Homo sapiens: one gene and its partners. The protein of the gene in region 1 interacts with the protein of each later gene in a biochemical or structural test. Each region holds a gene or a part of one and is shown on either strand. Other genes may lie near its edges.

Region 1 (7,906 bases):
GCACTTAGAGCCCCCGAGGGAGCCAGATGACCCCTCCTGGACTCGTCCCATAGCTCATTAGAAGTTCTGAGACGCAGCCAGTGAGGAGTCCTTGCCAAAATGTGCTTTGCTTTCCTTTTTAGGAAACAGAGAGAGGTTGGAAGTTTAATTGGCACTGACAGCCAGTCCTTCCCAGAGGCGTTTGCAGGCCTCCGCTCGGGGTGGGGCTGGCCTCTGCCTCACTGGCTGGGTCCCAGGCGCCTCAGGGCCTCAGGGCTGTCCCTCCAGGGCCAAGGGATAAGGGCGTGACTCATTGTCCTGCCAGCCCCTGCCTCTCCCTGGGACTCCTGGGCTCCCCAGGCCTTTGATGCTTCCCTGGATAGAGAGAAAGGCCCCTGCAGCCAGGGAGGGTGATCCCCACAGCCAGGCAGGCAGCAAGAGGGGTCCTGGCGCTGCAGGACAGCAGGGAGGGTGGCTCGGTGCCCCGGTCTTCACCGGGCTGCCTGTGTTTGGCTCTAGGACATCCCTACGGGCGCAGACAGCTGTGTGACGAGTCTGTCCTGTGATTCCCACCGCTCACTCATCGTGGCTGGCCTCGGTGACGGCTCCATCCGCGTCTACGACAGAAGGATGGCACTCAGCGAATGGTACCTTGACCCTGTCCTCTCCCTCCCCGAGTGCTGGCAGGGTACCTTCCAGGTGGTAGGGCCGTGTCACTGCCATTTGGTTGGGTCCAGGTTTCTCAGTGAGATGCAAAGCTTCCCCAGGAGCCTGCAGTGGCGTATTTAGGCCAGTCCTGGGCTCCCCAAAGCCGCCAGGCCCGTCCCACTGAGGCCCATCCCACAAAGGTCTGCCCCACAGAGGTCCACCCCACAGCCTATGGAGGAGCACAGGGGACAGGCCATGTGGGATGAGCCAGTGGACTGGAGGCAGAGGCTGTCGGGGTGAGGCAGGGCCGCAGCCAGGCACCTGCCACCTCTGAGCTCACCTGAACAGAATACTGCCACTGCCTGCCACCTCCTGGGTCATGCAGCAAGTGTCTGGGGAGGGATGTCTGAGGGCACACACGTGGGCACAGCAGCCCTGGGCACTGCCTCCACTGAGCACCCCTGTGGGCAGGTGCTGTCCGCGTCTGGCAGAGGACAGGGTACACGCATGGGCACAGCAGCCCTGGGCACTGCCTCCACTGAGCACCCCTGTGGGCAGGTGCTGTCCATGTCTGGCAGGGGACAGGGCACACGCGTGGGCACAGCAGCCCCGGGCACTGCCTCTGCTGAGCACCCCCGTGGGCAGGTGCTGTCCGGGCCTAGCAGGGGACAGTCCGTCTTGGCCCACACGGCTCATGCAGCAGAAGTAAATTTCACCCAGCACAGAGCGAGGATTCCCAGAAGGTCCTTGTGCCTCCAGCTTCATCAGCTTTAGGTCTGGGATTCTCATTCCTGACCCTCCAGTCTGCACAGATCGGGGAGACACAATGAGGAGTTTTGAGGGAAGCAAAGCAAAGGGTGGGCAGGGCCTGGGAGCGCTGCGATGGCCGCCTGGCCCCCGTCTCTGGGCAGCTTCCATGTGGCTCAGACAGTCCTCCAGCGGCCTGACGGTGACCTAGGGCCCAGCCCTGAGCCAGCCTGGGGAGGACACAGGGGGTCTCTGCTGGAGCAGGTCACCTGGAGGGGGCTCTGACCCTGCGTGAGCACTAGCCCCTCGTGGGGAGCGGACGGGCGAGGGCCTGCGGACCCGCTGGCACAGGCAGACCTGGGCAGCTCCCGGTGAGAGCCCCGAAGGGTGGGGACGTCCTTCAGGGAAGCCCCACGCTGAGCGTGCCCCCTCCCCTACAGCCGCGTCATGACGTACCGGGAGCACACAGCCTGGGTGGTGAAGGCCTCCCTGCAGAAGCGTCCCGACGGCCACATCGTGAGTGTGAGGTGAGGAGCGCCGATATTTAGCAGCCGTTCTGCTGTAAAAACATTATTTTCCCCTCCATTTAAAATACGTCCTTGGTATTTAAACAGCTGGAAGGGGATGGCATTTCGGGCAGTAATTAACTCCTGCCCTGGAACTGGCCAGAAAGATCAGGCGCAGCCCGTAGGGGCCCAGGGGCCACAGCTGCTCCCCTGCTGGGGGACACCTGACCTGCAGGCGCTTTGGGAACTTTCCTGGGCTGCCAACTGCGGAGGGTTCCGGGGGGAGTTGGGCAGCTGCTCTCCCTCCACGGGCAGGGGTGGCAGGGTGGCAGGGGCGGCGCGTCTGCCAGGCACGTGGCAGTTGTCTGCACATAAATTCAGTTCTGCCTCTTGGTAAATACAGCACCAAGAGCAGGGAATATTTATTTGCCTATTAAAGGAAGAGCAAGATGTAATTTATGAATGCAAAGCCAGCATTTCTTCAAAGAGATGCTCTTTTCCCCCTTGTTTGTGATATAAAAACCAAACATAACTCTTGGGATGGACGCCTGCTGGGGGTGGAAGGCAGGAGCCACGGGGCCTCAAAAGGGCCAGGCCATCCCTCTCTCGGGCCACAGCCTGCCATCCAGGCTCTGTCTCCCGGGACTGCAGGCCCCGGTTGCATGAAATCTAATCTCTAGCTGGAAATGAAACCAGGAGCTCACAGCCTCCTCCCGCATCTGTGCTCATGGTCATTTCTCTAGGCCAGAAAGCTCCGCGCCTTTTCTGGCTCTGAGAGAGCTTGTGGGGGACAGCCTTGGCCCTGAGACCAGTATGGGTGCATGTCTGGGCCCCACCTGGGCAGCCCTCACTGGGGACGCTGAGCATCCAGGCAGCTTTTTCCTTGAGCAGTGTGTGTGCAAACAGGTGTGCGACCCCACACACCTGGTTCCACCGTCCCCCTGGCCAGGCCCCTCATGGGGCCTCCGGGAGGAGGTGTCACTGTGACCCTCTCTTGGCAGCGTCAATGGAGATGTGCGCATCTTTGATCCCCGGATGCCTGAGTCGGTAAATGTGCTTCAGATCGTGAAGGGGCTGACGGCCCTGGACATCCACCCCCAGGCGGACCTGATCGCATGGTAGGCGCCACCCACCTCCCTGGCCTGCACCGCTCACCCGCCTCGGGCCTCTGTGCAAACGGGAGGCTCTTGTGTTCCTGCCCCCAGGAGCTGAAGGAGGGCAGGGGAGGATTTCACTGCTGTGGGGACATAAAAACAAAAGATGTCTGCCCACCACATCCTCCCAGGATAAACTCTCAGGGCCCTGCCAGGCCCGAGTCCTCAGTGAGAGTGACCAGAGGGTCACACCTGCCCCGAGCCAGCCTGTCCCCGTGGTCTAGCCGGCCTGTCCCCGCGGTCTCGGCATCTGCGCCCATCTTCCATCCTCAAAGAAGAGGGCAGTGATGCCGGGACCCTTTCTCTCCCCACAGTGGCTCCGTCAATCAGTTCACCGCCATCTACAACAGCAGCGGAGAGCTCATCAACAACATCAAGTACTACGACGGCTTCATGGGCCAGCGGGTCGGCGCCATCAGCTGCCTGGCCTTCCACCCGCACTGGGTCAGTGTGGCGGTGGGTGGGGGTCGGGGGTCGGGGGCTGGGGTAGAGGGATGGGAGGCAAGGGGACAAGGCAGCAGGGGTCCTGCCTGGCTACCCCACACCACAGTGGGGCCCATTGGCTGCCTGAGGGAGGGACTTGCCTGGGTCCCAGGATCTCTAGGGCCCCTGCCCCACCCTGCACTCGCCCCGGAAGCAGAGCCCCAGTCCCGTCACTCCGGGAGGAATTGACACACAGTGGCTGGGGCAAAGCTCCTGCCCTCAGACCCTGCACTAAAGCCATCCCTGGGGACCTCCAGGAGAGTCGCTCGGGGTGTCCATCCCTGTGCGGCCCTCACCCCGTCCCCTGTGCGGCCCTCACCCCGTCCCCTCTGCGGCCCTCACCCCGTCCCCTCTGCGGCCCTCACCCCGTCCCCTGTGCGGCCCTCACCCCGTCCCCTGTGCGGCCCTCACCCCGTCCCCTCTGCGGCCCTCACCCCGTCCCCTCTGCGGCCCTCACCCCGTCCCCTGTGCGGCCCTCACCCCGTCCCCTGTGCGGCCCTCACCCCGTCCCCTCTGCGGCCCTCACCCCGTCCCCTCTGCGTCCCTCACCCCGTCCCCTCTGCGTCCCTCACCCCGTCCCCTGTGCGGCCCTCACCCCGTCCCCTGTGCGGCCCTCACCCCGTCCCCTCTGCGGCCCTCACCCCGTCCCCTCTGCGGCCCTCACCCCGTCCCCTCTGCGGCCCTCACCCCGTCCCCTCTGCGGCCCTCACCCCGTCCGCTGTGCGGCCGAGTCCTCACCCTGTCCCCTGTGCGGCCGGGCCCCACCTGCACGGCTCTCTGGCCTTGGTTGCAGCCTCCCCACGTGGCTTCAGGCCGTTGTTTTTAGATTAGGATTCTGCCCACCTGCCGCCTTGTGTTGTGAGGCTCCAGGCATGTAGCTCTGCTGACACGTGTGACATTGGATCCCAGAGCTGCCCCGTGGGGCAGTCCTGAAAAAACCACGCAGGGCCCGGGGCAGCGCCACGCCCCTCACGGAGTGCACCATGCATGGGCCCTGCAGAGGACTGGTGGGACCGGCCCGGCATTTCCGGGCCTGAGGTGGGCGTGGGGGTTCCTGAGACCCCGGCAGGAGCTGCCTAAGGATGCGGGTTGGCCTGCGCCCCCCCGCCCCCCGCAGTGTCTGCCCGCACCTGAACCCCTGCTCACCCCTTCTCTCTCCTTGCAGCCTCACCTGGCCGTGGGAAGCAACGACTACTACATCTCCGTGTACTCGGTGGAGAAGCGTGTCAGATAGCGGCGTGACCCGGGCCCACCAGGCCACGGCCGCCTGCTGTACATAGTGAAGCTGTCACTCGCCGGGGCACGGGGCGTCGGCTGCTGCGGCCCCGCAGTGTGAACGTTGGCTGCTGCCTTAGCTGCTGATGACGGCAGGAGGGCCCTGCTACTCGCTTTTGTCTGTCTTCGCTGTCGTGTCTGGAATGTCAGGGAAGGGGAGGGCTCGGGTTGACGGTGGCTTCCCACTGAGCACCAGCATCCAGGTGCACCCCCGCGGCCACGGCGCCTCTGTCCCTCTCCTGTTCTGTGTTTCTCTGAGACGCTGAAAGGGGAAACACCTCACTTTATTTCCATGTAATCAGAGCATTAGCTGCAGAAAAACCCCCCGACAGAGCCCTGGCGGAGAGGCAGGCGCTGGGGCTCCTACGGGTCCCTGGGGCAGCTGTCCCCATCAGGCCAAGAGCGAGCGAGAGGCGCTGCCCCAGCCAGGCCCACCACCTCTCACAGTCAGTGCACGCAAGCAGGGACATTTCCTAGCCAGCTGGGGGACACTGGAAATTCGGGAAACCAAGAGAGAGGAAGAAGGAGACGCCCCTCCAACTGGCGGGTGTGAAGGAAGCCGCCCAGGGGTCCGGGCTGTCCTTGGCCGCTGGCAGCATCACTGAGCAGGAAGCGCACAGCCCACCCTCCCCGCACCTCCAGGTCTCTGGACTCCAGTTTTGGCCCCTCTCACACAGAGCTGTCAGCAGGGGCCGCTGTGGCGGTGCACAGGGGAGGCAGGTCCTTGGCGAGGTAGCCCCTGCCTTAATCCACGGGGCTCCTTTCCCTCCGAAGGGCTGCTCTTCCCCACAGGCGCGGGGACAGCAGCCCGACCTGTGGTCTCCATGCCTGTGCCCTCACACAGGTGTAGCACACGCATGTGCAGATGGCACCACGGCCGGCACCTGGGGGCACACACATGCAGGCGGCGTGGTCTCCCTGCTCTGTCCCCACACGTTCCTCACATACAGGCAAGAGGCACTGCCGGGTCCCGGACGGCTCCGGGTGACACCAGCCCCGTCTCCAGCCTTGAGCCGCCCATGCTGATGCGACCTCGGCTGACAGCTGGGCCTGTGGTGCAGACAGGAGCTGTGTGGACAGTCCCGCCCAGGAGGGGCCGCAGGGCGTGTATGAGCAGTTTTGCAAACAGAACACAACCACAATGATGGTATTTTGAAAAGTGTTCTTTCCGTGTTCGTCGGGAATCAGGATTATTGAGAGGTGAAGGAGCCAGGTGGCTTCATTCTGGCGGTGAGAGGCCCACGACCACGGGAGTGAGAGCTGGTGTGGCGAGGCCCGGCTCTCCTGCGGTGTGGCTGGTGGCCTGCCGTGGCCAAGAGCATCTTCTGGGTGGATGGAACCCTGCCTGGTCACATTTGGCCAGAGACACACCTGGCCCTCAGGGGGCTGAGCTGGAGACTGAGCTGGGGCTGGCCGGGACGTGACAAGGCAGGACAGAGGCGGCCCCTCCGCTGCTCCTTTTTGGAATGCGAGCTCCCACCAGAAGAAGGTTCCGGCACGAATCCCATCCCCACGTCTGGGCCGAGAAAGCAGCCCGGGTCCGGAAGGTGTAGAGAGTCCCGGCCTCACTCAGCTCACAGGGCGTGCCAGGCGGCAACACCAGAATCTTCCAGAAGCCCAGCTCCACCCGCACACGCAGCTTCCCATCCAGTCCTTCAACTCAATTCTTACCCAACACGCGTTTCTGTTTGTTTTGAGACAAAATCACCACCTGTCAAAAGGCAGGTGGCTCCAGAGGGGTCAAGACCCCCCCCCGCCCCCGCTCCACCCTGGAGCCCACCCCCATGGGCACCGCGTGCCGCCTGCACGTGGGCTGTCTTCACAGGTCTGATGTGAAAATTCAATCACGACGTTAACCGGCTCGAGAGAGCGCCGGCCTAGAGGCTCATTATCTATTTATTTTACCAAACGCGAATTGAGACGGACTTTGACAAAACACGAAATGGTAATGTGAAGCTAAGAGCAGAGAGTGACCAACAGTAAACAACACGCGCAGACTCCGCGGCTGGCGGCTGTGTCTTTAAGGAAACTGCCCACCCCACCTCAGGGGGGCATCGGTCAGAGCAGAGCTCTGGGGGGTGGGGGGACGTTGCCCGGGTCCCCCCTGCTGTCCCCAGGGCCACCAGCAGCTCTGCGTCCCGGGTGCTCTCCAGGCAGGCACTGTGGCCACAGGGGGCCTGGCACGTCGAGTGTGCAAAGGTCTCGGTCCTTTTCTCCCAGGCAGTGCCCCCAGCCCTGTGGCGCAGACCCCACATCAGGGAGCGTACTGTGTGGCAAGAGCCATCTTGTGACGTAGGCCAGACACGTGTCTTTCTCTTTAAAATGACGGTTATCCTCTCACGGTTAGAGGCCCCATTCAAGTCTGCATTGAAATCTGGGCCACGTCAGAGTTCCTGGGGGAGAAGCCGCTTCCCCGCTCCTCCCCACTTCTGGAGGCCCCCACTCTCCTTGGCTCGTGGCCCCTTCCTCCAGTTCAGGGCCTCTGACCCACGCCCACCGTCACCACTTCTCATGCAGGCCAGAAGTGTTTCCAGGCCTAGGGGCCGTACCCACCTCGGGCTGTGTGGGTCCTTAGCCCTAATCACATCTGCACATCCCTCTGGCCAACTCTTTTTGGGTTTGCTTTTTGTTTTGAGATGGAATCGCACGCTGTCACCCAGGCTGGAGTGCAGTGGCACGATCTTGGCTCACCTCAACCTCCACCTCCTGGGTTCAAGCGATTCTCCTGTCTCAGCCTCTCAAGTAACTGGGATTACAGGTCTGTACCACCACACCCAGCTAATTTTTATATTTTTGGTGGAGACGGGGTTTCGCCATGTTGGCCAGGCTGGTTTCGAACTTTTGACCTCAGGTGATCCACCTGCCTCAGCCTCCCAGCGTGAGCCACCACGCCTGTCCCCGTCTGGCCAATTCTTGAAAGGCTCCCGTTTCCAGATCACACTCTGCTCTGCAGGTCATGGCCTGTCCCTTGAGGTTTTTCCCAAGCAGCAAGGTCCGTGCAGGGATTGGGAGCCAGGGGGAATGTTGTGGAAGCCACAGCAGAGGCAACGGGCCTGGGCATGGTCCTGCGGGGCGAGTGGGAGGCAAGGGTCCGTGGGGATGGTCATGTCAGCC
Region 2 (8,875 bases), on another chromosome or scaffold:
GGGTCCAAACACAATGACTCAGTTATGCTAAGTCTTAGAGATGTCACCCACTGTGGTGGGCATGAATAAATCTTTAATTAGGCTGATCATAAGCATCTAAATGTGTCCATATCAGAAATCTTTTCATTCATTTTAAAGGCCATTCTTGACTGATACTGAATGCTCTTTGCATTTGTTGAGTTGACAACCTCAAGTTTGGTTCTTATGTATAATTTTGGTTTATTTTACTATTAAGTTCACTAGGATATTTCAAGGAATTGTATGAGGAAGGCCATTAGGTGTGTACCAGTACAATGGCAGGATAAAGAATGAGCAGTGGAATATATATTCATAAATATTTCACAATATACATACAAACCCGTGTATGCATGTGCTATAAAATAGCAAACTTGCTGTGCCTGTCTCTGGTTTAACCCATGTCAAACTTTTTTGATCTCATCAATGCCTTGGATTGTGGAAAATAAAAGCAACCCCGTGGTGGGAAGGAAGTACTTCCTCCTCTCACTTATGCCCTCTTGAATGTATCTGATCACTTCTATACCTTCATCCCCTTCTGTATTTACTGGGTTCTAGGCTCTGTAATTACATTCACTTTGTCCATCTATGCCAGCTACTTCTCCTACAGATCCGCCATTATGCCATAGTATAATACTATCCATTTGGAACTTGACCCAGTATTAAGTACTGTTGTCTTTAGAATGATGAACAGAGAGGATTGTCCTATTACTAAAATATTGTTCCTTTCCATGATAATGGCAATTAGTGTATTTTCACATATAACCACATCACAATCACCCTCCCTTTGCTCTAGGGCAGTGACAGTCTTTGGAAAACAACCTTGACTAATAGATTTAGTCCTACTAGAGTTCCTGCCTTCATTCATTCATTCAACTAATACAACTCCCTCTGTCACAAGGACAACCAGCTCTGAGCCCTCATTGTCCCCTGCACTACTGGGTCATTGTTCTCTCTCAGTTCTCAGTGCTGTCTCATGGGTTTCCTCCCTCCCATCCTCCTCACAGCTCTGGTTTGCTCTCTAGTTGACCCTGGTGCTTGGCTCAGGTAGATGTGTTAACATTAAGCTGTTTAATGTTCCCTACAGACGAAAGTCCTTTGTTCAATCAGCAAGAGTATATTATGAGACCACAGTGCTCCTGCCACTGTGCCAGGCATTCATAAGAAATATAAATGTGGCCTCTGCCCTTAAAGTGCTTCTGTCTAATTCATAAAAAATGGTTAGCCAGGTGCGGTGGCTTACACCTGTAATCCCAGCACTTTGGGAGGCTGAGGTGGGTGGATCATGAGGTCAGGGGATCGAGACCACCCTGGCTAATATGGTGAAACCCCGCCTCTACTAAAAATACAAAAAATTAGCAGGGTGTGGTGGCAGGCGCCTGTAGTCCTAGCTACTCAGGAGGCTGAGGCAGGAGAATGGCGTGAACCCAGGAGGCAGAGCTGGCAGTGAGCTGAGATTGTGCCACTGCACTCTAGCCTGGGCAACAGAGCAAGACTCCGTCTCAAAAAAAAAAAAAATGGTTAACATACCTGAAGTTGATAGAGCTCAACTGGAGTTAGAGGGGAGGGCCTATTATGTCCATGAGGGCAAGAGTCATGTCCATTGCATTGTTTCTGAATCCTTAGAACCTAATCTGTTGCCTGGCATGGAGCAGATGCTCAGTGAAAATGTGTTGGTAGAATGAATGAATGAATGAATGAAGGCTACCATGTTAGAATGGCATAATGGAAGAAGCGAAACTCAAAACAGGTGTTGGAGGATGGCAAAAGTTGGGATTGATGTAGACAAAAAGGAGTAAAGGGCACATTATTAATGGAAATAAGTACAGTTACATATCACTTGATGACTGGATATGTTCTGAGAAATGTGTTGTTAGACAATTTTGTTGTTGTGCAAACATCATAGAGTACACTTACTTAGACACACCTAGATGGTATAGCCTATTACATAGCTGGACTATATGGTATAGCCTGTTGTTCCTAGACTGTAAGCCTCTACAGCATGTTACTGTACTGAATACTATAGGCAATTGTAACACAATGGTAAGTATTTGTGTATCTAAACATAGAAAAGGTACAGTAAAAATATAGTATAAAAAATTTTTTTAAAAATGGTACACCTGTATAGGGCACTTACTGTGAATGGAGCTTGCAGGAAATGGCTCTGGGTGAATCAGTGAGTGAGTATGAAGGTCTAGGACACTTTATAAACACTGTACACCAAGGATACACTAAATTTTTAAAATTTCTTTCTTCAATAATTAATCTTAGCTTGCTGAAACTTTTTATTTCATAAACTTATACTTTTTTTAACTTTTTGACTCTTTTATAATAACATTTGGCTTAACACATATGGCTATACAAAAATATTTTCTTTATATCCCTATTCTATAAGCTTTTACTGTTCTTAAATTATTATTATTACTTTTTTAACTTTTTTGCTAAAAACTAAGACACAAATACACACATTAGCCTAGGCCTACACAGGGTTAGGATCATGAGTATCATTGCCTTCCACCTCCACATCTTGTCCCACTGGAAGGTTTTGAGGTGCAATAATACGCAGGGAGCTGTCATCTCCCATGATAACAAAGCCTTCTAGGTACCTCCTGAAGGACCTGCCTCAGGCTGTTTTACAGTTAACTTTTTTTTTTTTTTTAGTAAGTAGAAGGAGTACAATTCTAAAATAATGATTAAAAGTATAGTATAGTGAATACTAGATAAGGATTTTTCAGCTTCATTATAATAAGACCACCATCATATATGCAGTCCATCATTAATTGAAACTTCGTTATGCAGTGCATGACTGTACAGTGAACTTACAAAGAATGAGGAGTTGCACCTGATTGGAGCACACTTTACATGTATTGATAAGTGTTGGAAAATAAGTTTCTCTCTTTAGGTAGAGTGAAAGGAGTTCAGCCCTGTTTAATATAAAAAGGAGTCATGGATGGTTTTTGTGGGTGAATGAGAGAGTGACAAGGGAAAGATAGTGTTTAAGTGGTCAGGATTATAGGAGAGAAGCTGGAGCAAGGAAGGTCTGCAAGAAAGTGGCAATGCAGGCATAGGCAGTGAGAAAGTAGAAAGAGACAGATATGAGATTTACCCCCCCAACCCCCCCGCGCCGCTCCAAAACGAAGTCTTGCTTTGTTGCCTGGGCTGGAGTGCAGTGGTGTGATCTCAGCTCACTGCAACCTCCACCTCGCAGGTTCAAGCAATTCTCCCACCTCAGCCTCCCGAGTAGCTGGAATTACAGGCATGTGCCACCACGCCCGGCTAATTTTTAAAATATTTTTAGTAGAGATGGTGTTTCACCATATTGGCCAGGCTGGTCTCGAACTCCTGACCTTCAAGTGATCCGCCCGCCTCGGCCTCCCAAAGTGTTGGGATTACAGGCGTGAGCCACCGCGCCTAGCTGATATGAGATGTTTTGATAGAAAATACGACACAATCTCATAACTGGGTAAGGATGGATCCAACATAACTGCAAGGTACCTAGAAATCTTATCCAAAGGTTAGGAAGGGGAGATGATTTGGGAGAGGACAAAAGTGGTTTTGGATAAGTTAACATAGGGATGATAGTGACATCCAGTTGCTGTCCAAATAGAGATTTATGTCTTCAGAAGGGTAGAGAAGGCACATTAGAAATGTAGACTTGAGCGTTGTCAACATACAGGTTGTCAAGGAATCGTGTAGATCTTCAGTGATGGCTATTAATTTCTCCCATAATGTGCTAGTTAGAATCCAGCTTTCACAACATTGATACAGATTGAGTATCTCTTACTTGAAATGCTTGGGTCCAGCAGTGTTTCTGAATTTGGATTTTTTCAGATTTTGGAATATTTACATTATATTTTACCAGTTGAACATCCCTAACCCAAAAATCCGAAATCCAAAATGCTGCAGTAAGCAATTTCTTTATGTGTCAGGTTGGTGCTCAAAAAGTTTCAGGTTTTGGAGCATCTCAGATTTTGAATTTTCAGAGTAGGGAATACTCAGCCTGTAATGATAGCAATGATAATGTGTAACAAATAATAGCATCAGCAGCAGCTGAGTTGTATTTCCAGTATTGGTGTCCCATTGAGATTTGGAGCCACATTAAATGATGTCTAGGTTGGTGATACTCTCAGGAAGTGGGAGGTTTGGGGTTTTCAGAGACATATATTGCAATTCACTGGGCGTTTGAGTGAGCTTGGAAGATTGCCATGTTGACTATCTCCTGCCTGTACCTCCAGAGCTCTGCTATAGCTGAGACAGGCTTCCTACGTAATGAGTTATCTTTGCCTTTCATGTGAGCTGCAAATGTACCATTGTACTTCCTCACTAGGCAAAGTAATAAGTACTTAACATTTAAACATATGTTGCAACATACACCACAATCTCAGATATGAGTAGGTCATATTCATAAATTATTTCTTAAACAAAAATTATAATTGTGTTTCTGCTGTGGTATAAACTCTCAATTCCCATCAGACAGTTATCTGGGCCGGGCATGGTGGCTCACACTTATAATCCCAATACTTTGGGAGGCTGAGGCAGGAGGATAGCTTGAAGCCAAGAGTTCAAGACAAGCCTGGGCAACAGAGCAAGACCCTATCTTTACAAAAACAAAAAAAAAAAAAACAAAAAAACTAGCCAGGCACCATGGTTTGTGCCAGTAGTCCCAGCTACTTGGAAGGCTGAGACAGGAGGATCACTTGAGCCCAGACTGCAGCGAACTATGATTGTGCCACTGCACTCCAACCTAGGCAATAGAATGAGATGCCGTCAGTGATATTTTTCCCTTGAGTGACAGTTTATTTTTGCAAAGTTATCTCAGCCTATAATCCAGTTTGATATTTTAAAAGAAATTTTCTCTCTAGTTAAAAAAAATTATGAAGAACACCTTTGAATGATTTGCAAAGGGAAATGAATGTAGTAATCCTATGAGAAGTTCGAAGGACTCTACATTATCTGTGGGATGAATGCATAAAGCCTTTGGTGCCATGCCAGACTACTTTTTAAATTATAACTATTTTGCAGAGAGCAATACAATTGCAAAGAATAATACGAAGCAAACTTGCATTTGGATTTCTTCTCCTCTACTGTCTCTATAGGCTTCTTTCATCGAGACTTAAAGCCTGAGAACCTCCTCTGCATGGGACCAGAACTTGTGAAAATTGCAGACTTTGGTTTGGCCCGAGAAATACGATCAAAACCTCCATATACAGATTATGTATCTACCAGATGGTGAATACCATTTTTCTCAAAATTATTTAATTGCACTTCTTTAAAAAGATATCATTATGCTAAGGATAATATTAAAGTCACAAATGTTAACTTTTCACTAAGAGAAACAGTGCAGTCTGAAACATATATTTATAGATATGTTGGTAATGTACAAGGTTAAAAATCTTGTGTTCTAAATCATGTTAAAAGAAAACCTATTATGCTTTTCTATAATGTAAATAAAATTTTATATATAGGCCTTCCTGAGGACAGCTTAACAAAAGAATTATGTAAAATATTCTGCAAAGACCTGTCTGAGAACCATCTAATTGCTATTGTGAAAACTTTGAGACACTGGGAATTTGATTTAAGCAGTTTGCCATGACCAAGTAGTCTACACACAAGTTGTAGGTTTTTTCCTCCCTCTTCCTTTCTCTCTTAGTTTTTCCCTTCCACTTTCTCTTTTCTCTCTTTTTTCCTAATTCTTACTTTCTCTGTGTTTCTCAAAGATGCCATAGAGAAGTCTCCTGTAGAGAAATGCTCAGTAGAAAATATTGTGAACTAGAGAAGCACTACTTGTCAACAGCAGCCCACGGCAGTTGCCAAGTTCTCACAATTCCATTACACCACAGTGAACTAGAGAGAAAATAGGAACATATACACCCCCTCACTGAGAACTGATTGTTATTTAATTTAATGTCTGAGTGGTGGAAGCAATAGCTAGCAGTTAACCTTTGTTCCTCCAGGTACAGGGCTCCAGAAGTACTCCTGAGGTCTACCAACTACAGCTCCCCCATTGACGTCTGGGCGGTGGGCTGCATCATGGCAGAAGTTTACACCCTCAGGCCACTCTTCCCTGGAGCCAGTGAAATTGACACAATATTCAAAATTTGCCAAGTGCTGGGGACACCAAAAAAGGTAATGATACAAAACAAAGGCCAGTGGGCCAAAGCCAACAGCTTCCCATGCTTCCTCCGCTCAGCCCTGTTCAGCACTGGCATGATTGAGCACCTGCCCATTCTAGGCTCTTTCTCTTGACCTCAGTCATTCTCCACTGCCCACGTTCTCAGATACGGTCGGCTTCTCTTCCTCCTCCTGTTCTTAAGTATGACATCTGTCATGGCTCCTTCTGCCTTCCTCTCTGTATCATCTCACCTCCCTTGCAGAACTTCTCAGTTCTCATTGCTACAACTCCTACGCCTGTTCAGAAGTCTCCTGAATGTAATCCTTAGCCGCTGCCTCCCTCCATTATTACTACACTCACATGTTTACAACGCTCTATGGGATTTTCTCCTGACTCCCTCACCATCACCTCAAACTCATCATTGCCTTTTGTTTAACACCCTACTAGCTTCCTTCTTTCATTCTCCATTTTCATTTGTGGTCTGATCATAATCCCAGAGCCCCCACCTTGAGGCTGAATTTCAGCTTTACCTTCTGTCTTTCTCTTGCTCCCCTTTCCCTTCATCTAAGCGGTTGGTGGGTAAATCCTGTTGAATATTGCCACATGGCTCTTGTTCCTTCAAGTCCACTGCTGCCATTACAGACTGGACCACAGTCACCCCCCTGTGTCTAATGTCATCTTCCCCATCTTTCTGCCTTGAAGTATTTTCACTCTGGCTTCTTGTTCAGTCTGTGGCCAGATTCAGCTTCCTAAAGAACAGCTCTGGTACTGACTTCCCCTCATAAAAGTATTGGTTGACTCCCCATTGCCCAGCCTCATAACTCCTATTCCTATCGCTCACTTCATACCTATACACCTAACAGCTGCATGCCCTGAAATTTCCCTGCTTCTGTGCTCTGCACATAACACCCTCTGCCTGAGTGATATCTGTCACATGGCCGTCAGTAATCCCCCTCCTCACTGTTTCTCTAATCTCCTCCCCATCTTCAGCTGTGTCCTATGTTATTAATATTATTATTTGCGTACATAGTTGTTTCCTAGACCATAAGCTCACTCAGGACAAGGATTTGCTGTATGTTTATTTTCCCAGGTCCCAGCACCATTGCTGGTGCAAACTAGATCCTCAAAAAAATTTTTTAATCATTTGAATGAATTATTAATGCCACCTCTTCAAGAAAGTTTCCTGAGTCCAATGCTGGAATCTTTCTCCTCTGCATATCTGTACCTGCACATCTCTTGCAGCTTTTGTCAGTTTTTACTCTGCATTATACCATTTTTAAATAAATGCTCTTTTCTCTTTTAAGAACAGTAATACTCTTAAGCGCAGGATTTATATTGGATCATTTTTGGATCTCCAACAACACTAAGCATATAGTAGGCATTCCAGAACTGTCAAGTGAATGAACGATAAAAGCTATATGTATTGCCACTTGGCTTTAAAAAGGAGTGGAGGAACAATTACCTTAGGCTGTATGTTATAAAATAGTAGAGTGTTAGAACTAGAAGGAACCTTAAAGACCATTTCTTTAGCATTTTCCATCATTCCCTCCAGCATTTAGTGTCCCATAGAAATGATGCATGAAAAAGTGGAAAGCTTGAGACTGGGTGAAACACCTTTCTTTACTGCTGGTTTTCTCCACATGTATACTTTCAATCACCAAGTTGAAGATACTGTAGGTAGAGTTTCACAAATTTATTTGTCCAGGAACAAAATGTTTTGTTTTATTTTGTTTTCCCCAAAAGAATATCTCATTGGCAGTTTTCAGAACCTCTGTCTCATGGAACACAGTTGGGGAAATATTAATTTGTTTCAATCCCAAAATCTCAAGAGAATCTCTTATGTAAAGATAATTAAGTTGGCAAATCCAGTGTCTTTTCCACTATTCCCCCAGATTTCATGGTCTTGGTGGTCTCTCTATTAATCTAAATCTATGTCTCATTCCATACAGTGCCACAGTAGTGAATGTGGGTGGTTAATGAATGTGGGTGGGTAATGACATGGTTGCCTTTCCATTTGGGGCACACATGCCAGAATACAAACTTATATCACAGCAATTGGCTGAGCAAGATTTTCTATCTTTTCCTTCTTTCAGACTGACTGGCCTGAAGGCTATCAACTTTCAAGTGCAATGAACTTCCGTTGGCCACAGTGTGTACCCAATAACTTAAAGACCTTGATTCCCAATGCTAGCAGTGAAGCAGTCCAGCTCCTGAGAGACATGCTTCAGTGGGATCCCAAGAAACGACCAACAGCTAGTCAGGTTTTCTTCCATTTTCTTGTTATAACGTTCATATCTAACTCTGAATAATTTCTATGAATTGCACAGGAAATATTTAGTATTTAGTATTATGGGTGAGAAATAGTACAGAATACCACTAATGGTGTACTATATAAGGTATGAGAACTTAAAATAGTTTGAAACTTACTGGGTATAAAGTAGTTACAATGTAAACAATATAGTTGCTTTGAAAATTGGCATGTAATTCACATGATATATCACCATTTATATGGAAATGGAAATAAACATATATTTATCTGTCTTTGGAGAATGTTTTCAAATCTATTCTCTATGAGTTACAATTATATAGTAGTTTGTTTATAAGCCGGTACTGGTTGTTGAAAGGCAACTTCATATTATGTAAAAGTCCAACTGACTCATAACCTGAAGAGATTGACAGATGAGATAGACCTAGGATAGTAACTGCACTTAGTATTTCATAGCACTTTACAGTGTGCAAATGCTTGAA
Region 3 (6,080 bases), about 53 Mb from region 1:
TACTTTGTGATGGTAGATAATAACAGTAGTTGTCCTAAATCATACACTCCCTCTGCTGCTATGTTACCCACCTCTAAATTCAATTATCCCTCTTTGGACGGGATGTACTATAAATTATATATATGCTATGTCAAGCAGTTAATGTGTCTTTTGAAAGATCCTATGTGGACAGTCATTTTATCTGTAGTGTTGATGTGCTGGTCTCTAATTTGATTTCAGTCCAAAAGAATATCCGCTAAGGATGCCTTAGCCCACCCCTACCTAGATGAAGGGCGACTACGATATCACACATGTATGTGTAAATGTTGCTTTTCCACCTCCACTGGAAGAGTTTATACCAGTGACTTTGAGCCTGTCACCAATCCCAAATTTGATGACACTTTCGAGAAGAACCTCAGTTCTGTCCGACAGGTTAAAGGTGAGTATCTGTTTTGGCCTTTGGCCAGGCAATATGCCTAGTAACATTTTCCATTAGGTGGCCATGAAGAGCTGAGATCTGGATGGTAACCAAAGCTCCCCTCTATGTTTATTTTACAACCTTGCGTATAGCTGTGTGTCCGGGGCATAACAAAGCATATTTAATATTATATCCAGGGGAAGGTCGGGGAGAGGAATGAATATTTTGTTCTTATTTTCAAAGTTTATTTAGTGAGTATGACTCAAAATATGTTTAATATGTATTCACTCAGTGTCATTTCATTGATTCAAACGTATTGAACTTTATATAACATACAAAGTTCCATAAAGGATAAACATTCACTGAGGGAATTATTCCTTGGACGATGACAAGAGAAGGGAATTTCTGATAGTGTACTCATAAAATTTTGTGGCAGGATCTCCTATTGGAATACAGTGGGAGTAATGACATCCAAAATTCTGAGTGATTTTAGTGTCTACTGTAGGACATTTTACAAGAGAGAGAGTAGTCCCCAAAGTAACCACCTGAAACTATACACCTAGATACCAACTGAGGTCTTTAAGTGATCTTCAAAAAGGCAATAATTGCCAGCAACTTAGAAGAGTTCACCCATAATGCCAAACCTGTGGAGTCTCTCTCAAATTTATAGGCCATTTTACTCTTCCCACTGATGGGGTTGCAGTCTGTGTAATGCCACCAGTAGGTTTCTTATATTTAGCAACAGCTGTCATTTTAGTTTTAGGAAGTTCAGCTGAATTCTGCTTGATAGATGATGTGTGTGTTTGATTTAACTAAACCAGTAGGCAGTGCTTTTCAGATGCTGGCTAGAGTTCGCTGAGAATTCACTGCTCCCGGGCTTGCAAATTGTCATGGATTGTATGATGTTTGTTTTCTCCACAGAAATTATTCATCAGTTCATTTTGGAACAGCAGAAAGGAAACAGAGTGCCTCTCTGCATCAACCCTCAGTCTGCTGCTTTTAAGAGCTTTATTAGGTAACTATATGTATGTAATTCAACATTCTTGTTAGAATTAAAAGGATGCCAGTGTTACTTCATTATTCAGCATATTTGTTTTTATTTAGATAACATAGATAAAAGGTGCAACAGAAAGTTTCTGTTATGAGGTTTGGCTTTAGTCAAAAGTGTATTAAAACTGTAAGCATCTGGGCTGGGCGCGGTAGCTCATGCCTGTAATCCCAGCACTTTGGGAAGCCAAGGCAGACAGATCACCTGAGGTCTGGAGTTCAAGACCAGCCTGACTAACATGGAGAAACCTTGTTTCTTCTAAAAATACAAAATTAGCCAGGCATGGTGGTGCATGCCTGTAACCCCAGCTACTTGGGAGGCTGAGGCAGGAGAATCACTTGAACCCGGGAGGCAGAGGTTGCGGTGAGCCGAGATCGCACCATTGCACTCCAGCCTAGGCAACAAGAGCGAAACTCCATCTCAAAAAAAAAAACAAAAAACTGTAAGCATCACATTTTACACTGGTGCCAGTTCACTGCGGTTGCTTTGGCAATTTTTTCCCCGGATGACCATTGTGCTGCCTCATCACATATATGGCAGTCCTGCTGCAGCATTAGTATGGTGGCCACCTGTCCTGGAGTTAGACGTGGTCATCTCAGTTCCCACTACCATTCTCACTCCCTAGTAATAACTGCAAGCAAGAAAATAATTTTTTTGTGTGTAGGTGGACTGCTGGTGTAGCCTATTTAGAGGAGAAGTCAAAAGGCATATGGTAGAGCTATGAACCTACATTGGAAGTTACCAGGCTTCATTCTCCTTGTCTGTCTGTCCTTTCCTTCTCTTGATTTCTTTTTCCTTAACTCCTTATATATTGATCAGGGTCTAATCGGGAGAAATAAACCACTTCCCTAGAATACAAACGGGGAAAATTCAGTAATAAGAACTGTTAACTAGGAAAGATGATCAACTGCTAAAAGGCATAAAAGAGGATTCTGAAGGCTGCTGAAGTAGCAAATGCAGAAAGCAGCCACTCCCTGTAGACTGAGGGAGAGTAAACAAGAAAGGAATTAAGAATTTAGAAGAGGTTCCTCATGTAAGGACCTCTTTGGAGAGGGTATGGCTGCCACAGGAACTGGAACACACAGCACGAGGGTGGTGCAGAAGAGGAAGTGTGCCAGAAGGTGTGGCCAGAACTGGTCCATCAAAGACTGCCTGCCAGGAGAGTTCGGGTGGACCAAAGCTGAGCCTTCCACATGACCAAAAACAGGCACAACAAACCAAGGAAGGGAGACTGCTTCCTGATGCTACAGCCTTGCAAATGCCCTTCCAGCACCCTCTGTTGACAAAAGCTAACATTAAGCTAGGTGGCAAAGGGGAACCATGAACAGGGTCTGGCTCCAGTATCACAAAGCAGGACAAAGGGTGGATTCGGATATGAGTGGTCACACAGTCTCTATCTTCCCCGCTGCCTTTCTCCTCTCCTTTTTCTCTCTTCCTGCTGCCCTTTCCCTTTAATCATATTAAAGTTGGTTGGATTTGTTGGACCACAGTCAAGATTTTATGCTTAAAATTTGCAAAATCAGGTGACTTTCATTTCTTCCATGTATTTTTCTATTGGAAGAAGGAATTAAGTTGCACTTTTACTTATCTGTGGTTTTAAATTACTTTGTTTTACTATTTTCCCCTAAGAGTCAGTGACCCAGTCAGTTAGGCAGTTTAGCAGCTTAGGTGCAAATGATCCTGGGCCTTGGGGAAACAAGGGGTTACACTTTTCCCTCTCAAGTTTATAATCTAATTAGCAATCTTAGACATAGGAAAAAGCCAATAACAGATCTAGATCACCAATGCTAAATGATTACCTATACTTCTCCATTAATACTTGATAAAAGAATGCTTATAAGGCCCATTCAAAATAGGCCACTGTATTTTGAGAGGCTACTTTTAAATGGATGATTCTACATCCCTTAAGGTTATTTTCCTGATTGATTATTGAAATTATTACTTGTAATACCTACATTTACTTTACACTTTGAAGTAGGCACTGTGGAAAATACTTCACATCTATTATCATTTATTCATCCCAGTATCCTATGAGGTAAACAGCATTATTTCTTTCCAAATGAGAAGAGATTAAGGCACTTGCTCAGGGCCATACAACTAGTAAATGACATGTGGTTTTCAAGCCTACATATTAGCCACTATACCAGATTGCCTCTCCATAGATAACAGGTCCATAAACAAGCAACTTAGAATAAATTCAACTTCAAAGAAACAAATAAAAATCCAGAAGTGGAATTAATTTTTTCAGAGGAAGAGAGGAAAACAGGAAGTAGTGAATTACCCTTTTGTCCATTGTGACATTACAACTAATTTCTCCATCTCTGTTTTCTTCCAGTTCCACTGTTGCTCAGCCATCTGAGATGCCCCCATCTCCTCTGGTGTGGGAGTGATGGTGGAAGATAATGTACTACTGAAGATGTAATGTAGCTTTCCACTGGAGTCTGGGATTTGCAATTCTGGAGGTTAATCATGCTTGTACTGTAATTTTACTAATGAAGTTTTAAATTAACAACCACTACTTGTATGATATGAATAATATTTAGAAATGTTACTAGACTTTTAATCTTGTAAAGTGGTTGTGCTTTTAGAAGAAAAATATTTTACCCAGAGTTGCACATGTTTTATGAATTTAGTGCAGCTGTTATGGCTCACCTCAGAACAAAAGAGAATTGAACCAAATTTGGGAGTTTGGGGTTTTATGTTTTGTTTTTCTTTTCTAAAATGAAGTGAGATTGTTCACACACACACACACACACACACACACACACAAACACAAAGGACAGTCATACATTTTGATATTTGAGCCATTCCTAAAGATTTGGGGTTTTCTAAAACTAAAGAATCTAGGAACCTTGCCTGCGACCAATCATGGAGCCACGTGAGCTGATCGTGGCTGCACCTGGGGGGAGGGTAGGGAGGAGGGGCATGCCACCTAATGATCAAGCCCTATAATTAGCTTCTCATTAGAGCCGTGATGGTGATGTGTGCTGTCTAAAATCCAATGTTGTGGGTAGAGAGAATGAGTTTGTGACTAGGAGAGACTAAACTTTTGTTTTCCTTACCCAGTATAAATATATATATATATATTTAATCTATTTTTATTAGAAGTTTTTCTGCTCTTTCTTACATAAAAGAACCCCAAGCATGCATCTTTCATGTGTGTAAATAATTCATTTCTGGGCTAATTTCAAAAGAATCCCAATATTGCTGTATAGAAAGAGAACTAGCTTGCACATTTTAGGTCTGTGAAATTTTGTGAGACTTTTCCTGCACTGGACAGTAAAAAAATAATAAAAGACAAAAACAAATTTAAAAAAAAATTTAAGCCACAAAAAAAGGCACATAGGGAATTATGTCAAATGTGTTTGTGTCCTTAGGCAAAGCTGTGGGAGTCTTGAAATGTCACAGTAGTAAATAACTTATTACTTTTTGACAAGTTCTTTTTTTCTGTTGGAACACTGAATTCTTCTGTGCATATGTACATATGAATACAAATCGAAGGCCTCTACCTCCTGGAGTTATACAACTTGGCTTGTTTACCTCCACATGCTGATGATGACTATTTTTTTTTTTTGAGTTCAGTGTGGAGACTTGAAACTTGAATGTCCCTTCCAACTTTTATATTAAAAATAAAAAGACAAGAAAATTGAAGATCATTTTTCACCTGTACAAGGAATACTAATGGATCGTCTTAAAATTGGTCTAGGAAAAAACCTTGGTGTGTGTTATGGACAATTAACTGTTAAAGTTATTGTAAGTTATCTGTATTTAGCAGAGTATTTTCAACTTGAGTGATCTGAGCTGAATTTGAAGACTATTAATAAGTTATGTTTGGAAGTTTTAACTTCAATGAAGTAATTATTTGCTGTGAAAGAAACAAACATTGAATTACTAAACAAAGATGGTGCAATATCTTTGTTTTTTTTTTATGAGGCTCCTGAGAATCAACCCAACTGAAGCATTTCAATTCACTTGAATGAGAAACGTGTTTAGTATCAAAAGAGCCCAAGAAGACACTGGTGTGAAAGGTACAATCTCAGAGGTTGGTCAATTACCGTGGCACACTTTCTGGTCACTTTGTACAATGTAGATTTGAAGTACAGTGGTGAAAACATTAAATGTGACATTTGAAAAAGATGTGTCATCTGTTTTATTTCAGTTTCTTTCCTTTGTTTTCTCTTCAGTACAGCTCGTATCCTGACTTTGCAAAGTTTTGAGACACTTCCTATTTATATTTCCACTTTGATCTTTGAGGAAATTGGTTGTTTTTAAAAATCTTCTCAAAAACTTTAGATTGACAAAAACATATTGAAAATTTAGTTAAATCAATATCAAAGATGTGATTTAAATATACACAATAGAGAAGTCTTTTTAGACCTTGGAGTCTCTAATCCAGTGGTTTTCAAACTTTTTTTTCTTTGAAGCAATATCTTGGAGTCCAATATATTAAATACATAAAAGTAGATTGCTCTGTATGAAGCAGACTGGTAAAGGGACTTGACACCTCCCTCCTCTTCACTTCTGCCTCCTGCCTCTAGCAGCCCAAAGGTACTTTCAGCTAAGGAAGAAGTCCCAGCCCAGTGGTGGTGTAATCAAGGCCTGAAACCAGACTGCCTGACTTCAAAATACTTTCCC
Region 4 (8,768 bases), on another chromosome or scaffold:
TGCCTATTATGTGGAAAGCACCAAACTGTGTTTCTTATAAAGATAAGAAATATGATCAGCACAGTGGCTCACACCTGTAATCCCAGCATTTTGGGCATCTAAGGTGGGAGGATCACTTGAACCCAGGAGTTTAAGAGCAGCCTAAGCAATATGGTGAGACCCCTGTCTCTACAAAAAATAGAAACATTAGCCGAGTGTGGTGGCACTTGCCTGTAGTCCCAGCTACTTGGGAGGCTGAGGCAGAAGACTGATTGAGCCTGGGAGTTGGAGGCTGCAGTGAGCCATGATCACGCCACTGCACTCCAGCCTGGGCAACAGTGAGACTCTGTCTCAAAAAAAGAGGAAAGGAGAGGAAAGGAGAGGAGAGGAGAGGGGAGACGGCGGCGGGGGGGGGGGGGAGGGCAGGGGAGGGGAAGGGAGGAGAGGAGAGGAGGGAAATCCTGATCTTGTAGGAAATATACATACACACATACACATTCTGATCTGGATTTTATCTTCTAGTATAGGCAGGACCAGTTACATAATTTATGGGACCCAGTACAAAATGGAAATTCAAGCTTCTTATTTAAAAAATTATTTAAAACATCAAGATGGCCAGGCGCGGTGGCTCACTCCTGTACTCCCAGCACTTTGGGAGGCTGAGGCGGGCGGATCACTTGAGGCCAGGAGTTCGAGACCAGACTGGCCAACATGGTAAAACCCTGTCTCTACTAAAAATACAAAACATTAGCCAGGCATGGTGGTGGGCGCCTGTAATCCCAGCTACTAGGGAGGCTGAGGCAGGAGAATCGCTTGAACCCGGGAGGCAGAGGTTGCAGTGAGCCGAGATCGCACCTCTGCACTCCAGCCTGGGCAACAGAGCAAGACTCCGTCTCAAAAACAAACAAAAAATCAAGATAGTGACATTAGAGCATTAAACCAATCATGGAACCCTTCTAAGTACAGGGCTCTGTACAACTGCATGCATGAGTCATATGCCTGTGAAGCTGGCCCTGAGTACAGGGCTCAGCAAACTATGGCCTACTGGCCAAATCCAGGCCGCCCCTGTTTTTGTGCACCTATAAGCTAAGAACAATTTTGACATTTCTTTTCTTTTCTTTTTGAGACAGGGTCTTGCTCTGTCACCAGAGCTGGAGTGTAGTGGCATGATCATAGCTCACTGTAACTTCAAACTCGACTTGGGCTTAAGCCATCCTCCCACCTCAGCCTCCCAAGTAGCTGGGACAACAGGCATGTGCCACCACACCTGGCTAATTTTAAATTATTTTTGTAGAAACAAGGTCTTACTTGTTACTATGTTGCCCAGGCTGGTCTCCAGCTCTTGAGGTTCAAGTGATCCTCCCACCTCAGCCTCCCAAAGCGCTGGGATTACAGGCGTGAGCCACCACACTTAGCCGATTTTCACATTTTTAAATGGCTAAAAGAAAAAAAAAAAAAAAGAACATTTCGTGACACGTTAAAATTACTTGAAATTCAAATTTTAGTGTCCATAAATAAAGTTTTATTAGAATACAGTCAGGTCTATTCTTTATGTATTATCTATGGCTGCTTTTGTCCCACAACTGTAGAGTTGAGTGGTTGCAACAGAGACCATCTGTCTGGCCCACAAAGTCTAAAATATTTACTCTCTGGCCCTTGACAGAAAAAGTTTGCAAATCCCTATTCACAGGAAGGTCAAACACAAGTGACAAAGAAAAGCAGCAATAAAATGTTTCAGGGATTCTAAAGAGAAGAGAATACATAAGGTTAGAAGTATCAGAAAAGAAGCTCTTTTTTTTTTTTTTTTTTTTTGAGACGGAGTCTCACTCTGTAGCCCAGGCTGGGGTGCAGTGGTGCGATCTCTGCTCACTGTAACCTCCGCCTCCCGGGTCCCAGTTCAAGCAGTTCTTCTCCCTCAACCTCCCGAGTAGCTGGGATTACAGGCATGTGCCACCATGCCCAGCTAATTTTTGTATTTTTAGTAGAGATGGGGTTTCACCATGTTGGCCAGCCTGGTCTTGAACTCCTGGCCTCAAGTGATCCGCCCGCCTCTGCCTTCCAAAGTGCTGGGATTATAGGCTACCGCGCCTGGCCAAGAAGCTCATTCTTAAGAGAAAGTAGATAAACCTTGAATAATGGGCAAGGTATTTGCAGAATGAGATGGAATGGGAAGGGGCATTCCAGGCAGAGGAAATCATTCACCTATGCACAACAGAGAGATGGGGAAGCAAATTATGTGGGCCAGATGAAAAGTCCACTGTCCATTCTGACTATAAATCAGTTTTGAGTGAAAGGAAAAAGTGAGACACAGGATTTTAATTTTATTTTGGTAGAGTGGGGAGTAATTGAAGGCTCTTTGAGGAAGGGAGTGACTTGCTTGGTATGCTTTAAGATAATCATCTGGCAACAATGTATAGAATGGATCACAGCAGGAACAGACTGGAGGCCACCAGGCTGCAAAGGTCCAGGGGATGAGTTCTGCCAAACTAAATTTGGCAACTAAAAACTAAGTATGGTCTTAGTTGAAATGGAAAAGAGGAAACACAATGAAAGACCTTGTCGAATTACTATCTAATAGATATGCCAATTGATGGATTATTCAAGAAGAGCAGAGAGCTAAGTATCAGGCTTGAAGATTGGGTAATTTAAAAGATGGTGATACAATTCACAAAGGAAGAGGAAAAGAAACTGGTTTGGTTACAAAGACGATGAGTTCAGTTTGCACACATGACCAGTGCAAATTGCCAGTGGAATATCCTGGAGAAGAAGTCAAGGAAATAAATAGGAAAGAGGCTCAAACTGAAAAGTGAGTTCAGTGTTAAGAGATGCAGATTATGGTATTCTCTGCATAGTGATAACAGTTTAATACAAATAACAATGATTTCCAGTCTAATAAGAGAAACTGTGTTTTTAATTAAATAGATTATTTTACACGTTCTCTCAAACTCTAAAAATTCTAGCTTCAATTTTCTAAAACCAATTTCTTTCTGGAAAAAAAAAATCAATTGCCCAAAGGACAAAGAGTTTTTCTAAAAAAAGAAAGAAAGAAAAAGCACAGTGTTCCCAGGTAACACTTCTGTGAGCTCAAAGTTTCAGACTTTCAGTTATCAAATTTTTATGCAATAACTGAAAAGTTAGTAAAGTCAAATTTATTTGTAATTCACTCATTCATTGAGAAGTTACAGTAATTCCAACGGACTGCTCTGAAATTTGCCTTTGAAACTTTTATTTAAAAAGGTTTTCTAAAGAATGGATGTTAAGTGTTCTCATAAAAAAATGCTAACTCAAGGCCAGGCGCGGTGGCTCACGCATGTAATCCCAGCACTTCGGGAGGCCCAGGCGGGCGGATCACCTGAGGTCGGGAGTTCCAGACCAGCCTGACCAACATGGAGAAACCCCGTCTCTACTAAAAATACAAAATTAGCCGGGCGTGGTGGCGCATGCCTGTAATCCCAGCTAGTCGGGAGGCTGAGGCAGGAGAATCGCTTGAACCCGAGGGTGGGAGGTGGGGGCGGAGGTTGCAGTGAGCCGAGATCACGCCATTGCCTTCCAGCCTGGGCAACAAGAGCGAAACTCTGTCTCAAAAAAGAAAAAAAAAATGCTAACTCAGCCGGCGCGGTGAGTCACGCCTGTAATCCCAGCACTTTGGGGGGCCCAGGCGAGCGCATCACCTGAGGTCAGGAATTCGAGACCAGCCTGGCCAACATGGCGAAATCCCCTTTCTACTAAAAATTAGCTGGGCGTGGTGGCACGCGCCCGTCATCCCAGCTACTCGGGAGGCTGAGACAGGAGAATCTCTTGAACCTGAGAAGCAGAAATTCCAGTGAGCCGAGATCATGCCACTGCACTCTAGCCTGGGTGACAGAGCAAGACTCTCAAAAAAAAAGGTAACTCTGTGAGGTAATGTAACAATGTATACATTACTTCAAACGATCATGTTGTATACACAATAAATGCAGACAATAAACAATTTTTAAAAAGATATTTTTCTAAGGAAATAGAAATTATCGAAATAGGTAATCTACTCAATTAACCTAAATTGTAAAACATTATAAAACACAGAGAACTGTTATAATTCATTCTCATCTATTCATTTAACTTAGGTTAGCTTAGTTTTCAATCACTACATATTCTTAAACGGAGTGAAATTAGTCACATTCCATTTATCTTCCAAATTTATCAACGTTTATTAAGATTTATTTCAAGAATAATTTGTACAGGGCCTAATTAAATTATGAACCAAGAAAGTTAGTCTTAAATGACCCCTCAATCCCTTTTCCCTGCACTTTGCTCTCTTAATCTCCTCGCCCATCAAAACTGCTTCAAGAAAAAGTTCTGATAAATTTCTTGTACTAAGGGTAAGTAAGAATGGTAAATTCCCGTGTTAAGTTCCCGCCCTTTTTGGAACGAGGCATTTTGGAACAGAAAGTGTTTTCTGGTGCCCTGAAGTCACACGATAAACCTACTTGCCTATGGGTAATCCTGTGAAGTGAATAAAGCGTCCAGGACATGCATTTAAATACGCAATTTATTTTAGTTATATAAATGGCGTTGGTTTAGGTGCAGGGTACAAACTTATTTAGAAATCATCGATTTGTTAACTGCGTTTGGCATGGGAATTTGGAAAGAGTTCGCCCGGGTTAAGACACCAATGGATAAAACACTTGTCAATCCAGGAGAAAAGGCATCTCAAGAATGGAAAGACTTGCTGGCCCAGGCTCCCTCGGGGAGCTCTAGGTGTAGAAAATGCGCGCTCTCCGTTACTTCTCGGTTACTTTGCCCAGCACAAAGGACGACGCGAATACCAACAGACTGGACGAGTCGGTGACTACAGTTTGCATTAAGAGGCGGCGCCTTTTGGGTTTCGGAGGGTTCCACTGGAACCCACGAGGGTCAGGAACACCGACGCGCGGATTCCGCCCACCAGACAGCCTGGGGAAGCGAGCCTGAAGGCGCGGCGCAGCTAGAGAGAAGAACCTCGGCAGACATGCCGCCCAGAGGCAGCTAAGGGGCCCGTGGGCAGGGCCTGCGCTCCGGCTGCGATGCAGGCCGGCTAGAGGCCGGCGCCGAGGACCCGGCGCGCGGCGGCCCCGCCCCCTCGGCTCCCCTCGCCCCGCCCCCTAGGCCCGCCCCTTCCCGGGCCGCGCACCCGCGCGCCCCGCCCGCGGGCGGAAGCTGGAGCGAGGCTGAACGCCTGACGTCAAGGCGACATCGCCAAACCTCGCCCAGATTCAGGCGTGTAAACCAGCCGGAGCGGCGCGGCAGCGGCAGGACCGCCGTGGCGCCTAGAGTAGCGACCCGGGGGGAGCGCGGGGCGACGCTGGCTGCAGGGACCCGGTGACAGCGTGAGAGGTTCGCAGAGTGAGTGCGTGGCCGCTGAGGGAAGCCGCGGCGGCGGCCGCGCGGGGCCGGGCGCCGGCTGAGGGGAGCGGGTGGGGTGCGGCGAGGCGCGGGCCGGGCGCGGCGGTCAGGGGCCCCGGCGGCGGCAGCCCCTCGGCGCGCGGCAGGTGGCGCGAGGGCCAGGCGCCGGGCCCGCGAGCGCGCTGCCTTGCGGGCCGGCGAGGAGGAGCAGCCGCCGCCGCCGCGGGAGAACAGCGCGCTTTGCGGAAGGGGTCAAATGTCTGAAATATGGCGGAGGAAGTGAGAGCCCGAGGACCCCCCCACCCGCCCGCTCTCTTCAGCCCGCGTCCGCCGCAGCTTCTCCCGCCGCCCTCCTTTCCCCGCCGGCTCCCCCGAAGACTCGCTCCCCGCCCCGAGCCCCCTCGCTTGTCGCCTGGGTTCCCTCCGTGGTATGGGTGGAAGTTAGAACGGAAACCAGAAAGTTGTCCTTTGCGAAGACCTAGCTTCTCCCAGCCCCGAGCTAGGGCGAGGAGCCTTCGGGGGAAACCACTCCCAGGCGCCCCGCGGGCTTGAGCCTGACAGCGAAAAAGTTTGCCTGAAACGGGGCTTGCTTGCTCCATTTGTTGCGGGAAGTGGCAGGAGGAAGGCAGCGGAGAGAGCCCCACTTAGTCTGGCAGCAGCCACCGTGTAGAGAAAAACTGTTAAAGGGGCCTTTCCCTTCGTCAGCAAGAGGAAATCTCTTTCTCTTAGAGGGAGAGAAAATCCAGGAAGTTTGTCCTCTTCTCTTTTTCGCCATCTCGAGGTGTCTAATCCTAAAACTATCAGCGCCATGAATTTTATTTAAAACTACGCCCAGTGAACCGGGCTCTCCGGATTTTTCTTCTGAAAAACACTGATGTCTTTTGGAGAAAAGATCATTTTTGCAAGTTAAAGCAGATGGTTTCCTTCCCCTTCGCTTTCCCCCCTCTCCCACTCTCTTTAATAGTTTAGAAAAACATTTTGGCCCTGTAACTTCTGATTGGTATGAATAGAAGCAGTTCTGTGTTGCAGTAAGGGGAAATCACATTTTTACGGGGTAGAAAGTTGACACTAAATGAAGATTGTGATTTTAGTATTTTAAAATTAATTCCGTCTAATTGGATTTTGGTTTTGCAGGCAGCATCTCATATATGTCGAGTACTTAACAATTTAAAGCTCTGACTTGTAAATTTATTTTTCAGCTCTCTTTTTTCGTAATTAGAATACTGTTTGGACTTGCTCAACAAGACCTTATCTTAACAAAAAGTAACTTATAGAAAAGGGAGACATTCATTTAACTTCAAGCCCATATTATTCTTAAAAGCTGACTCTTGAAATAGTATTTATTGAGTCATAGTGGAGTCATGGGACTTTTTAAGGGCCGGAAGGGACTATTTAGATCATCCAGTCCCACCCTGTCATTTTATGGAGGAGGAAACTGAGGCCTAGATAAGATAACCAGTTAGTGGGTCCACTGACCTTTAGGACAGTAGTCTATCCGTAAGAGACAACATGGAGAAAGAAATACAACGTTTTTATAGTGAATTATCATCTTACAAAGAATATTCTTCCCATATCGCACTTTTAAAAAGTGGGTACCTTAGTCAAATAGGAGAAAAAACCACTTGAGTAGTTTCATCCTCAGGTTTTAGGTGAGGAAACTGATACTCAGATTAAATAACTTTAAGCACACAGAGCCTGAATGATAGTCTTATTTGAGCTCATCTGTGCTTTTAATGTGTACTACGTTAGGTGTTTTCACTTGCATTTCCTTTAGTCTTATTTGAGCTCATCTGTGCTTTTAATGTGTACTACGTTAGGTGTTTTCACTTGCATTTCCTTGTTTGACGTTGACAATAAATCGTGAAGCTGCCTTATCTAAGGAAGTCCTAAAGTAAATCATTGGAACACATGTAGCCAGTTTGTTGTTTTTAATATGCCAGGTATCAAAATATAACTGAAGAACCAATGCTAAACTGACTTAATTTTAAAATGTTGTATGGGGCATGAAAATGATTGCTCTGGCTGGGCGTGGTGGTTTACGCCTGTAATCCCAGCACTTTGGGAGGCCGAGCCGAGGAAGGCGGATCATTTGAGGTGAAGAGTTCGAGAACAGCCTGGGCAACATGGTGAAACCCCGTCTTTACTAAAAATACAAAACATAGCCGGGTGTAGTGGCACGCGCCTGCAATCCCAGCTATTCGGGAGGCTGAGGCACGAGAATATGAACCTGGGAGGTTCACATTGAATGAACCAGCTTGAACCTGGGAGGCGGAGGGTGCAGTGAGCCGAGACTGCACTACTGTACTGCAGCCTGGGTGACAGAGCTAGACCTGTCTTAAAAAAAAAAAAAAAAAAAGGAGATAAGAAAATGATTGCTCTGCTCTCTTTTACATTCTCCCCTCACCCACGACCGCGTGAAAGTCATCTCTCTTACCTTCTATGACACGCATTACTTCCTGCCTCCTGTTACCATTTTATATTATTTATTCCATTGAATTGTGAACTCCAACCACAAGATATATATTGTTTTGTATGCCTTAACGCACTGGCATGGTGCCTTGCAATAGACATTCAACACCAGTTAAATGTAAGTACCATGAGGGTAGGGACTTAATCCATTTCATTCTTCACAGTAATCTTCCTAGCGCGTTGCCTGGGCACAGTGTAGCGCGTTGCCTGGGCACAGTGTAATGGTTAGCGTTTGAATTTAGGGATTAATGGTAATGAACATTCAAAGAGAGGATATTTGAAGAGAACAGTGTAATCCTTTAAAAAGAAACATTTACATATTGGCTTTGGAATCCCTTTTACTTGACAAATTAATTTTCGTTTTATCCTCAATCCTTTTCAGAATTCCAATATTTTCTCTTAGCTGTATAAAGGTAAAGTGACCCCCTCCCATAATAAAGAGCTACCATGTAAGGAGGGTATAGCAAAGAATTAATTATTAAAATAACTAGATCCATTTTTGTAAGGATCCTTTCAATTGTATCTTCCTATCTAATTCAAGATTGGTGGAAGGTCTATGCAAAGATTGATAACATGGTAACTGATTAGACATGTTATTTTAAATGCAGTCCAAGATTTGGATGAAAAGCTCACGTTCAGGTTTTTTTTGCCTTTTGTTGTAGGTACTCGATAAATATTTATTGAGGTAGTGAAACTAATCTGAAATTGGATCTGATACAGAGAATTTGACCGATTTTACAAGGTGTCCATTTACTTTTTCCCCATAAGTATTGTTTAAATAGGCTGTTTTATTATCGACTATCACACAGATCTTACTGATTTGCCTCATTTCCTTAAAGATGTAAAATAACTGTGTTTCTCTGTATGTTTGTGTTGCTAAAGAGGAGGTTGGGTATTGATCTGCAGTTTCTAGATTTGACTGGCACTAGGAGTAATTTAGCATTTATGAATTAGCTATT

The links.
Region 2: of the proteins of RPTOR (region 1) and CILK1, one has a biochemical effect on the other in vitro, tested with the Homo sapiens proteins (one study listed by BioGRID).
Region 3: of the proteins of RPTOR (region 1) and NLK, one has a biochemical effect on the other in vitro, tested with the Homo sapiens proteins (one study listed by BioGRID).
Region 4: the proteins of RPTOR (region 1) and RAP1B form a complex in vitro, tested with the Homo sapiens proteins (one study listed by BioGRID).

Annotation. Positions count from the first base shown.
Region 1 is NC_000017.11:80,959,580-80,967,485, forward strand, and holds the end of RPTOR (regulatory-associated protein of mTOR), read left to right. Parts: intron 1-498; coding exon 499-626; intron 627-1,814; coding exon 1,815-1,901; intron 1,902-2,881; coding exon 2,882-2,998; intron 2,999-3,348; coding exon 3,349-3,478; intron 3,479-4,682; coding exon 4,683-4,751; 3' UTR 4,752-6,789; downstream 6,790-7,906. UniProt on the Homo sapiens protein: Component of the mechanistic target of rapamycin complex 1 (mTORC1), an evolutionarily conserved central nutrient sensor that stimulates anabolic reactions and macromolecule biosynthesis to promote cellular biomass generation and growth.
Region 2 is NC_000006.12:53,015,596-53,024,470, reverse strand, and holds part of CILK1 (serine/threonine-protein kinase ICK), read left to right. Parts: intron 1-5,111; coding exon 5,112-5,244; intron 5,245-5,969; coding exon 5,970-6,141; intron 6,142-8,220; coding exon 8,221-8,388; intron 8,389-8,875.
Region 3 is NC_000017.11:28,190,802-28,196,881, forward strand, and holds the end of NLK (serine/threonine-protein kinase NLK), read left to right. Parts: intron 1-219; coding exon 220-418; intron 419-1,318; coding exon 1,319-1,412; intron 1,413-3,780; coding exon 3,781-3,835; 3' UTR 3,836-5,580; downstream 5,581-6,080. UniProt on the Homo sapiens protein: Serine/threonine-protein kinase that regulates a number of transcription factors with key roles in cell fate determination. Positive effector of the non-canonical Wnt signaling pathway, acting downstream of WNT5A, MAP3K7/TAK1 and HIPK2.
Region 4 is NC_000012.12:68,605,713-68,614,480, forward strand, and holds the start of RAP1B (ras-related protein Rap-1b isoform 1 precursor), read left to right. Parts: upstream 1-5,186; 5' UTR 5,187-5,331; exon of another isoform or gene 5,332-5,340; intron 5,341-8,768. UniProt on the Homo sapiens protein: GTP-binding protein that possesses intrinsic GTPase activity. Contributes to the polarizing activity of KRIT1 and CDH5 in the establishment and maintenance of correct endothelial cell polarity and vascular lumen.